2 separate regions of the Homo sapiens genome follow, and region 1 is linked to region 2. The links come from fine-mapping of genetic effects on gene expression. A gene starts in region 2. The other region holds a variant in brackets. All regions are shown on one strand. Distances are from middle to middle.

Evidence for each region. PIP is the estimated chance that this variant, and not a neighbour inherited with it, causes the effect.
Region 1: its variant is fine-mapped to the expression of EPHX2 in whole blood (INTERVAL, PIP above 0.99).

The regions. Positions count from the first base shown.
Region 1 is chr8:27,542,400-27,547,774 of GRCh38, forward strand. It overlaps EPHX2 (epoxide hydrolase 2), which reads left to right. Exons shown (of 19, transcript NM_001979.6): 17 at 1,350-1,430; 18 at 1,787-1,845; 19 at 2,045-3,165. The coding sequence ends at 2,123. Among named protein-coding and RNA genes, the nearest start is that of EPHX2, 54 kb to the left of the region's middle. The variant A/G (reference allele first, on the strand shown) is at 2,158.
Region 2 is chr8:27,488,053-27,493,427 of GRCh38, forward strand. EPHX2 (epoxide hydrolase 2) reads left to right here and starts at 3,091. Exons shown (of 19, transcript NM_001979.6): 1 at 3,091-3,257. The coding sequence starts at 3,157. RefSeq lists a cis regulatory region at 834-1,148 and a silencer at 2,895-3,174.

The sequences.
Region 1 (5,375 bases), 54 kb after region 2:
GCAAGAACAGTGCCTCCCTCACAGAGCTGTGTAAGGATGAAATGGTTGAAGGCATGTGACCTGTTACAAGCAGTACTGGGAACCTATTAGCTCCATTAGTGTTCCTTGTCATTATCATCATATGACCGATGAAAATGACCAAACTGCAGTTGGACAGACAAAATCTCTCAAAGCGTGGAGGAAAATATTGACAAAGGCGCTGGGAAGGTGAATCCCAATGGTGCTAAGGTCAGAAACCCTCCTCTTCTGCAGTTTATTTTTTGAGACAGTCTTGCTCAGTTGCCCAGGCTAGAATGCAATGGCACGATCTCGGTTCACTGCAACCTCTGCCCCCTGGGTTCAAGCAATTCTCCTGCCTCAGCCTCCCAAGCAGCTGGAATTACAGGAGTGCGCCACCACACCCAGCGAATTTTTTGTGTTTTAGTAGAGATGGGGCTTCACCATGTTGCGCAGGGTGGTCTCAAACTCCTGAGCTCAGGCGATCCACCCACCTCGGCCTCCCAAAGTGCTGGGATGACAGGCGTGAGCCACTGCACCCAGCCTCTCTTCTGCAGTTTCCAGCTGGATCTTCCTCTCTCCTCCCCCACCTCCTCCCATCCCATCCTCTCCCCCCCCCGCCCCCCGCCCAGTTCACATTTTAGCTTGGAACTTTCTAGAGTTTACAAACCTCATAGAAGCCTCAGGATTCGTTTTAGCCACAAAATCATTTTTGACCTTCTCCTGGCTCCTGGTTGTGGGAGGAGGGAGGGGTGTGGAGAGATGCCCATCACTCTGGGTGTAAATGAAAATAGTGCACGTTCCTCAACCAGGGATGGGTCAAAGCTGCTTGGAAATTAGGGTAATGGTGGAGCGAGAACAAAGGAAAAAACACAGAGGCTTTCCTGGCCTTCCTGTGCATGCCTCCCTGTGTTCAACTCATTTGCCAGCAATTGGAAGTTACTTTGCTGCCATTCATGTCACATTGATTACTACTGTGGCTGCCCCCATTTTCTCTGGAACCTTGGTCGCCCCTTTTAAGCATCTATTTAATTCAGGGAAGAGGAATCTTGATCTTCATTCAAGGGTGTCTTCTGCCTTCTTGGTGCCATCAATTCGGTTCTCCCAGTTACATGCAGCTCAGCACACGTTCTCACTCACACACATCTGCACACATAAGACCCATATTGGCCTCTGCACTGCTGAAGCTGTTATTTTAAAGATCTCCAGTAATAACCACGAGTCTGTTGTGCAAAGTTCGGCAGATACAACGTCAGGACCACAGCAGGGTGGCGAGCAGGGGTCTTTCAGAGGAGGAGGGAGGGCTTCCTTTGTGGAGTGCTGGCCACTTCTGTTTCCTGTTCTCCCCCCAGATCCTGATTCCGGCCCTGATGGTCACGGCGGAGAAGGACTTCGTGCTCGTTCCTCAGATGTCCCAGCACATGGAGGACTGGGTGAGGGAATGGCCCTGTACAAGGGTCATCAGTGCACCCCGGGAGAGGGCACGGGTGCTCAGAGGGAAGACGGCAGCAGAAGATACACCTTGTCATGTGGATAGGACCATGGTTGAAGCACATCATCAGTAACATCACTGTCCCCCCATTGCAAGCAGCAACCGTGACTGTACCTTCCTTTCCCCTGCATGGATGTGGGGTCTCATTCATTCATTATTCCCTTCCTAAATCATGCAGGGTTTGGGCAGGGTGGCCTGCGGGGAGCAGAGAGAAGGCGTCCATTGCCCATTGCACTAGCTAGAGACACACCCATCTGCCTTCTTCCATTTACCTTTCTGCCTGGGGTTTCCTTTCAGATTCCCCACCTGAAAAGGGGACACATTGAGGACTGTGGGCACTGGACACAGATGGACAAGTAAGGAGGTTGGGGGCTCCTGGGGTCGGGGAGAGCAGGGCCCCCCGTTCACCTTCCATAAAAGCTTTCCTGGTTTCATTGTGCTGGCTTTGGCCTGGCTTAGCCACTCATGTCACTCACCTCTGCCTTCGAGTTGGCTGGGTAGGTGCAGACAAGTGTGAATGGCTATTTTTTTCTTTTACTTCTCCCTTTCCCCCAGGCCAACCGAGGTGAATCAGATCCTCATTAAGTGGCTGGATTCTGATGCCCGGAACCCACCGGTGGTCTCAAAGATGTAGAACGCAGCGTGTGCCCACGCTCAGCAGGTGTGCC[A/G]TCCTTCCACCTGCTGGGGCACCATTCTTAGTATACAGAGGTGGCCTTACACACATCTTGCATGGATGGCAGCATTGTTCTGAAGGGGTTTGCAGAAAAAAAAGATTTTCTTTACATAAAGTGAATCAAATTTGACATTATTTTAGATCCCAGAGAAATCAGGTGTGATTAGTTCTCCAGGCATGAATGCATCGTCCCTTTATCTGTAAGAACCCTTAGTGTCCTGTAGGGGGACAGAATGGGGTGGCCAGGTGGTGATTTCTCTTTGACCAATGCATAGTTTGGCAGAAAAATCAGCCGTTCATTTAGAAGAATCTTAGCAGAGATTGGGATGCCTTACTCAATAAAGCTAAGATGACTATGCTGCTGGCTGTCTTTGTTCTTGGAGAGGTGGAGTGACTGTTCACGGAGAATGCACGGCATGGGGATGAACCCTTTCCCTCTGCTTTTGAGCCCTGTTCTGGGCTCCAAGGTGCTGTATGATCTAGGCCGTGCTGGCCAGGAGACAATCCTATGGGGATGGCAGTGGTGTCTTGTGCTCTGTCCCCTAGAGCAGTCACTGGCCACAGGTAGCCACCTGCCTTTCTCCCGGCTTCCCTAGCAGAGTTTGCTCAGGCACAAATGTGCACCTGGAGCATTTGAAATGTGCTAGTGAGGCTGAGGAAGAGAATTTTAAATTTCATTGAATTGTAATCAGTTTAAAGTTAAATAGCAGCAGCTGCCATGAGGCTCAGGCAGATCCAGCTCATCTTCCCCTCTGCCCCCTCCTCCCTATCTTCCCCTCTACCCTCTCCTGCCTCCTGTCACATCCGGTTAGGCTCCCATCTCACTGATGTGTCTCCTGCAGTGGTCTCTCCCCTGCCCTGCTTCCAGCCCCAGAGTCCTGGAGCAGCAGCCTCCTCACGGGTCTTGCCGCCCACATGGTTGGATCCTGAAACTCGCAGGGCCTCCCCCAACTGCCCCTGCCCACCCCCAGCCCGGCCCCATCACCCTCCAATTCCTAACCGCCCTCCAGCAGCACACTTGCAGGTGCTGATCCTCCTTGACCCTCTGCCTAACTTACCCATTCTTTGCCTGGAATATTCCTCCTGCCACCTCCTCCAAGCCCATAGGCTGGGTTCCGAGCCCTTTCTGCCTGCCCCCCTTGCATGGTTATCGGGCTCACAGATGCACGCACAATGGCCTCGCTGCTTGCGAGAGAAAGTGGTCCCTCCAAGCTGAGTTTGGCATGATGACGGGCATGAGTTGGCCAGGTCACAAGAGCCTGAGTATCTGTGTATAGGGAGAAAGCCAGGAGAGGTTTGAAATGGAGGCTGCTGGCATTTCTTCACTGCCCTAGTGCACCTGGAGTCTTCCATGCACCACCTCTGATCCTTCCAGAGAGTCCTTCCCATTTAACCGAGAGGGAAACTGAGGTTCAGATAATTTGCCCAGGACTGCTTGGCTAGATGGGGGCAGAGCCTGGATTCAGAAGCAGGCTTTCTGGCTCCTAAGGCTGAGCTTTTTCTACAAAAAAATGTTCTCGTCGCGCCACTGCACTCCAGCCTGGGCAACAGATTGAGACTCCGACTCAAAAAAAAAAAAAAAAAGAGAAGTTCTCCTTTCTAAATCTGGAGCCAGACCACCTAGGTTAGGCCTCCGGTCAGCTGCATACTCGCCTTGTGACCTTGAAAAAGGATATCTGTGCCCCAGTTCCCTCATCTATAAAAAAGGGGACGTTAGTAGGACCTAACTCATGGGTGGTTGTATCAAGTATGTTAATAATATGCACAGAGTTCTAGAACAGTGCTTGGCATGGAGGAAGTGCTATGGAAGTATCAGCTATAAGATTTCCAGTTTGTCTTAGGACAAGACCTCTAAGGGCTTTCCATTTCCAGCCATGCCACCACCATCTCAATCTTTTGCATCTGAGAATTAAAGGGCTAATTTAAAGGCAATCATGAGGACTGGGGGAAAGGCTTACACCAGATCACATTATTTTCCTAACTGGGTGTATTCAAGCTCATTTGTAAGGGAGCAGTTGGGGGAAAGGAAATAATCAAAACCTAAAAGCGTCCTTTACTGGAAGGAGCACAAACAGCAAACCTGTCTTCCCGAAAGTCTCGCTTTTAATATTCTATCCAGTCATCTCCATCAGCCATCAAAAAGGCCTCAGAAATTCTGCTCCTTTGGCAAGTAAGAGTTGAATAACTCCATTCCATAGCATTGCCAGAAAATATAACTGGTTATACAAGATTGAGGGCTGTATCGGTCTGTTCTCCCATTGCCATAACGAACTACTGGAGACTGGCTACTTTATAAAGAAAAGAGGTTTAATTGGCTCACGGTTCTGCAGGCTTTACAGAAAGCATGGCTGGGGAGGCTCCAGAAAACTTACAATCATGGCAGACGGTGAAGGGGAAGCAGGCACATCCTACGTGTCTAGAACAGGAGGGAGAGAGAAAGAGAAGGGGGAGGTGCTACACACTTTTATAAACAACCAGATCTCATGGGAACTCACCATCACGAGAACAGCAAGGGGGAAATCCGCCCCCAAGATCCAGTCACTGCCCACCAGGCCCCACTTCCAACATCGTGGATTACAATTTGACGTGAGATTTGGGTGGGGACAGAAATCCAAACCGTATCAAGGGCCATAAAGGACAGTGGACTGGAAGAGGTCTTTAGGTTTTTCAAGAAGATAGTGGAATGTCCAGGGCTATGTTTCCTGGTCTGCTTTGAGGACCTTTGGGCCACACGTCAACTGTTGCAGTGGTGGTATCAGGGCATTCCCTGGAACAATCAGGGAAGATTTTCAGATGCCATTTTAAGTACAAATGGCAAGGAGTGTGTTCAAAATGATTTAATTATAAAATGCTATATTTTGGGATTGAATTTAATTTGTAATTAACATACTAGTACATATTCATGGGGTACATAGTGATGTTTTGATACATATAATGTGTAGCAATCAGATCAGGGTAATTACACATGTCATCTCAAACATTTATCGTTTTTGTATTGAGGACATTTAATAACCTCCTTCTGGCTATTTAAAACAATGTATCATTGTTGACTGTAGTCATTGCTCAGTGCTATACAACGCTAGAACTTACTCCTCCCATCTAGCTGGAATTTGACATTCCTTAAATCCCTCCCTATCCCCCACCTCTTCCCCAACCCTTCCCAGCCTCCTATCCTCCATTCTACTTTTTACTTCTAGGAAATGAATTTTTTTT
Region 2 (5,375 bases):
TTAGAAAACTGCCAGAGGTAGCTTTACTTTGAACTCCATGAGTATCTACAGTAGAGAGAAGCAGCAGTGTAAAGTCCTCCCTCCCAACCCCTAGTGGTTAAACAGATTTTATAAAATAGGGTTTGACAATCAAGGACTAGCAGGAAGTTGCAGAAGGCACAGGAATGGCAGAAAACCCAAAATAAACCTTAATGAGGTCAGTGTACATTCATTATGAATTTAGTGATTGAAATCAGGTGTAATTTATAAATTTTCACTACTACATTAGCCATCTTTTATGATTCATGCTATCACCTAAAACATATTTCATAAATATTAAAATTAGAAGACATAGGGGTTAGGATTTACATTTCAAAAAGCCACCCAGTTCCCATAGCCCTGCTGGGTAAGCCCTTATCTCTCTGTACCTTAGTAGCAGAAAACACAGGAGAAGCACGACCATGAAAAAGGGCAAAGTGCAGTGAAATGCAATTGAGACCTTTAATCTTTGCCTAAGCAATTCAGCCAGAAAGCTCTGTAACTCACAAGGCATTATAAAAATATTCCACACCAGAGCTATTTACAAGTTAACTGCTCCTGAATAAATAAAAGTCCATGTGATAGCTTCATGGCTTTCTCTTAACCAAAGAGGAAAGTAAAACTCATATTTCTATGTTTTTAAATTTTTCTTCTCAAAAGGGGGCTTTATGAAATCTAGTTCTGTAGGTATGTCGTTCCTCTACACTTTACTGCTTGTATAAATATACTTACGTATTCATAAGCAATACTGTGCTAGATGCAGAATTCAGATGCAGGCAACAGAAATCACTGTAGTTATTTTAAATAGAAACAGAAGAAAGGGATTTAAGATGAGAGACTGCAAGCCTACACAATCTTTGAACGGAATGGAGGAGTGAGCTCCAGACTGAGCCTTTAGGAAGGACTCCCAGAAAACACCACCATAGAACTAGAAGCTGCTATCTCTGCCTCAATCAGCAGGCCACCGCTAGAAACACGAACATATGGTTTGGCTGGGAGCCAAGGATCTGGAAGCAACTCCGTGGTCTCGGGACTGAGCCACTGAGTCAATGGGGATGCCAGTTTGTAAGATAGGGAACACACTAGGAGGAACAGGCGTGGGAAGTAGAAATGCAGAGAGAGTTCTGTTTTAGCCATGATAAATTTGAGATGCCTGTTAGACACTCAAGAGAAGATGTTCAGTAAGAAGTTGGATATTGACGTTGAGTAAGATGTTGAGTAAGAAGTTGGCAAGTCTGGAGCCCAAAGGAAACTCTAAGTTGGAGATTTAATTTCTTTCTTTTTTTTTTTTGGAGGTAGAGTCTTGCTGTGTCACCCAGGCTGGATGGAGTGCAGTGGCACAATCATGGCTCACTGCAGCCTCCACTTCCTGGGCTAAAGTGATCGTCCCACCTCAGCCTCCTGAATAGCAGAGACTACTGGCATGCACCACCATGCCTAGCTAATATTTTATTTTTATTTTTTATAGAGAGAATGTCTTGCTTTGTTGCCCAGGCTTGTCTCAAACTCCTGGCCTCAAGCAATTCTCCCACCTCAGCCCCAAAGTGCTGGGATTACAGGTGTGTGCCACCATGCCCAATCTGGAGATTTAACAGGTTTCATACTATATAGGTCAGGCTGCAATTTTCTTTCTATTTTTTAAAATTCAATTATACCTTTGAGATCAACTAACTTCATGAGAAACTAGCTTGCTGTACTCCCTTCTCTGCCTATCTTTCAGTCTTCAAATCCAGAGTAATCCAGTTTCTACCATAAAGGGCCCACAAAAAGTGTTCTGAAACATCCGGTGTCATCCAAGTCCAAAATTGGACAGCTTTTTTTTCAGTTCTTCCTGTAACATTTGGCAGTGTTGGCCACTCTCTGCTTCTTTGGCAAGAATCTCAGAAAACACTAATAACTGCTCCAGGCAGGAGCCTGGAAGAGGTTACCAAGCTAGAGAAGGAAGCAACAGCATAGCTTGCTAAGGGCAAACAGCCCAGAGGAAACCCACGGCTCTGGTCAATCCTGTTGTTGATTGCTAGATCCAGAGACTGTTGTAGACCTCCCAGTTACAGTGAGGTATCTGACAACCCCTCACAAGGTTCTTGAAGCTCCGTGGTGGAGGGTATCTTGGATAAATCCACAGAGACACATTCAAGAGTAAATTCTCCACTGTTGGAGACCTCACTCACTCTGTTTGGTCTCCACCAAAGACACGGTTTTTAATTCATGGAGCTGCACTACAACAGCTCAAGAACTCCCAGCCAAAGTTTTAGTTTTTCTAGGAACATAAACGAGCCAATAGTGTGGAAATCGGTGATTAAAAACAAACCTCGCACATTTTAAGACAGAATTATTACAAGTAGCATGTACAAAAGGAAAATAATAGCCTACATTTAGTTCTTCTAAGCTTCATTCCACAAGAGATTGAAATCGAAGTATTCTGGGCTGGCACACGATAGCTGGAACATCATATTTTATTCTAGAAACACATTTGCCTTGGCAAAGAAGAGCGTGCCTAGAGGAGTGGTCAGGATAGTGAGGGATCTGTGATCCTTCGTTCTGAATCTAGAAAAGTCACTGGATATGCCCCTCCCCCGCCCCCCAACACGGTCTTATGTTCTGAATGTAGAAGTCACTGGATGTGCTGACACACACACACACACACACACACACACACACACACACACACACACACACACACAGAGTCTGTGGCCTCTTTCCCAGGCATTCCAAGTCCAGCAAGTTCGCAGGGAGCTGTCAGTCCGTCCAGGAAGGCCCGGGCCTGGGTTTGCCTCTTCAAGCAGCTACTGCAGGGGCGTGGGGAGGGGGCATAAGAGACTTTGGACTTTCCTTTGAGACAGTAGAAAGCGTTACATCCAGAGGCGAGATTCTAGCCTGGGGTCCCCGCCTTCCCGGCCTCCTCTTCCTCTCCCTCTGACTCCCTTTCCTGTGCCCCTCCCCCTGCCTCTTTCCCGGCCAGAGTCCAGCCTTAACCCGGGCAGAGGGCGGAGTCCCGTTAAGGGGGTGTGGGGAGGAGGCGGGGCCAGGGCAGGGGCGGGGCAGAGCCGGGCCAAGCTGGGCGGGTCATGCGCCCTGGCCTTCGCGCATCTCCCAGGTTAGCTGCGTGTCCGGGTGCTAGGCTGCAGACCCGCCGCCATGACGCTGCGCGCGGCCGTCTTCGACCTTGACGGGGTGCTGGCGCTGCCAGCGGTGTTCGGCGTCCTCGGCCGCACGGAGGAGGCCCTGGCGCTGCCCAGGTAAGGGGGCCCAGCGCCGCCGCCGCAGTGGGTCGGGGCCTCAGGAGGCAGACCGCGCTGGGCTTGCAGCCCAGCTTTCAGATTGCTCCTGTGCCGGAGCCCTGCGAATCATGCGAATCATGAAACTGAAGACCTGGCCCTGAAGTCCCAGTGCATATGAGGAGATCCGTTGTCTTTCTAAATGTTCATAATTAAACGTTGCCAAGGTCTCCAAAATTGCTTTCTGTGAACTTTTCCAAAAGGGAGAGGAGTTACTCATGGAGCTTTGTGCTTCTGCTGCCTCCTGTCTAATGGGGTGGCGCTTAAAGATGCGAGCCGAGATTCAGGAGAGAAGAAAGTTCTCTCCCCAGGTGTGGGTTGCATGCTTACTTGTGTAATAGCAAACTGCAGCAACCGCCCAAAGCCACATCACTGGGAAATGGTAGATGGGGTGTGCAGAGTGAGAGCTCAGGGACTTGGGAAAACACCTGTTCTACTACATGAAAAAACCACCCCACCAGAATCTGAAGCTATTTATACAATATGGTTTCAGCTATGGAAAAAAGGTACATGCAGAAAAGTGCCTGAAAGAAATAGGCCAAAGTACATCAAATGAGATTAGGAATAATGTAATGATTTTCTTTCTCTCTCTCTTTTTTTTGTGTTTTTTTTTTTTGTAGTTTCCAACTTCTAAATTTATAAACAATGTATTATTCCCACATTCAGAAAGGAGAGAAGTATACTTATTTATAAAGTGAAAAAGAAGGCCAGGCATGGAAGCCATTGTTCATATCCTCCTTTTACATATGAGGAAACTGAGGCACAGAAAGAAACCAGCTGTCCAAATCACATAGCTGTTAAAGAGCAGAGCCAGAAATCCAACCCCAGTAGTCCATGTCCGGAGCCTTTGCTTTTAATATAGTAAGGAAGATGAGATGGCAAGTAGCTTGAGGGAAAGGCATGTAATCTCTGTGCTTTGGGAAGCTAAGGTGGGAGGATCACTTGAGGCTGAGAGTTCAAGACCAGCCTGGGTGAAAGAGCAAGACCCTGTCTCTCCAAAAATAAAAATAAAATTAGCTAGACATTAGTGCATGCATGTAGCCCCAGCTACTTGGGAGGCTAAGGCAGAAGGATTGCCTGAGCCCAGGAGTTGGAGGCTATAGTTGTGTCCAGAGTTGGTTCCTGTCGGTGGGTTCGTGGTCTTGCTGACTTCAAGAATGGAGCTGTGGACCTTCGCAGTGAGTGTTACACTCGTAAAGATGGCGCAGACCCAAAGAGTGAGTGATAGCAAGGTTTATCGTGAACAGCGAAAGCACAAAGCTTCCACAGCATGGAAGGGGACCCCAGCAGGTTGCCGCTACTGGCTGGGGTGGCCAGCTTTTATTCCCTTATTGTCCTCTCCCATGTTCCATTTCTGTCCTATCAGAGTGCCCTTTTTTCAATCCTCCCCGTGATTGGCTACTTTTAGAATGCTGCTGATTGTGCGTTTTACAGAGCGCTGATTGGTGCATTTTACAATTCTCTTGTAAGACAGGAAAGTTCCCCAAGTCCCCACTCGACCTAGGAAGTCCAGCTGGCCTCACCTCTCAATCCTCCCTCATAACAGGACACCCCACCTGCTACTGGGAACTGGGTGATGACCACTCTAGCTACTTCCTGCTGGATAGGGGCAAAGAAGGGGCCCTGCCGTTGTAGTGTCCTCCAGAGGGGAACTCTCTAGGCCAGTCAAAGGGCCAGTGGGTCAGTCTAGCAGTCCTCGGTAGAAGTTGTGAGTTAAGCTCATTTGGGGTTCCATTTGTAAGACCATCTGTAGCTTGATGGCCTTGATCCTGGAGGAAACAAATTTGAGGAGGAGGTTAAAAATACAGGGACTGAAGGTGAGTAATAGCAAGATGGCTGTCACGGGACCTAGAAAGGGGAGAAGCCAAGTCACCCAACTCCAGAGGTTGGTATAAGAATTTGAAAGGTGTTGTCTGGTTTCAGAAGCCTTTTCCTGTAAATGCCAGGCAGCATCCTGTACTATCCCTGACTGGTTAGTTTAAAAACAACACTCCTCCCCTAAGAAGGTGCAAAGTCCTCCTTTCTCAGCAGTGAGGAGGTCTAGACCTTAGCGGTTTTGGAGAGTCACTGTTGCCAAAT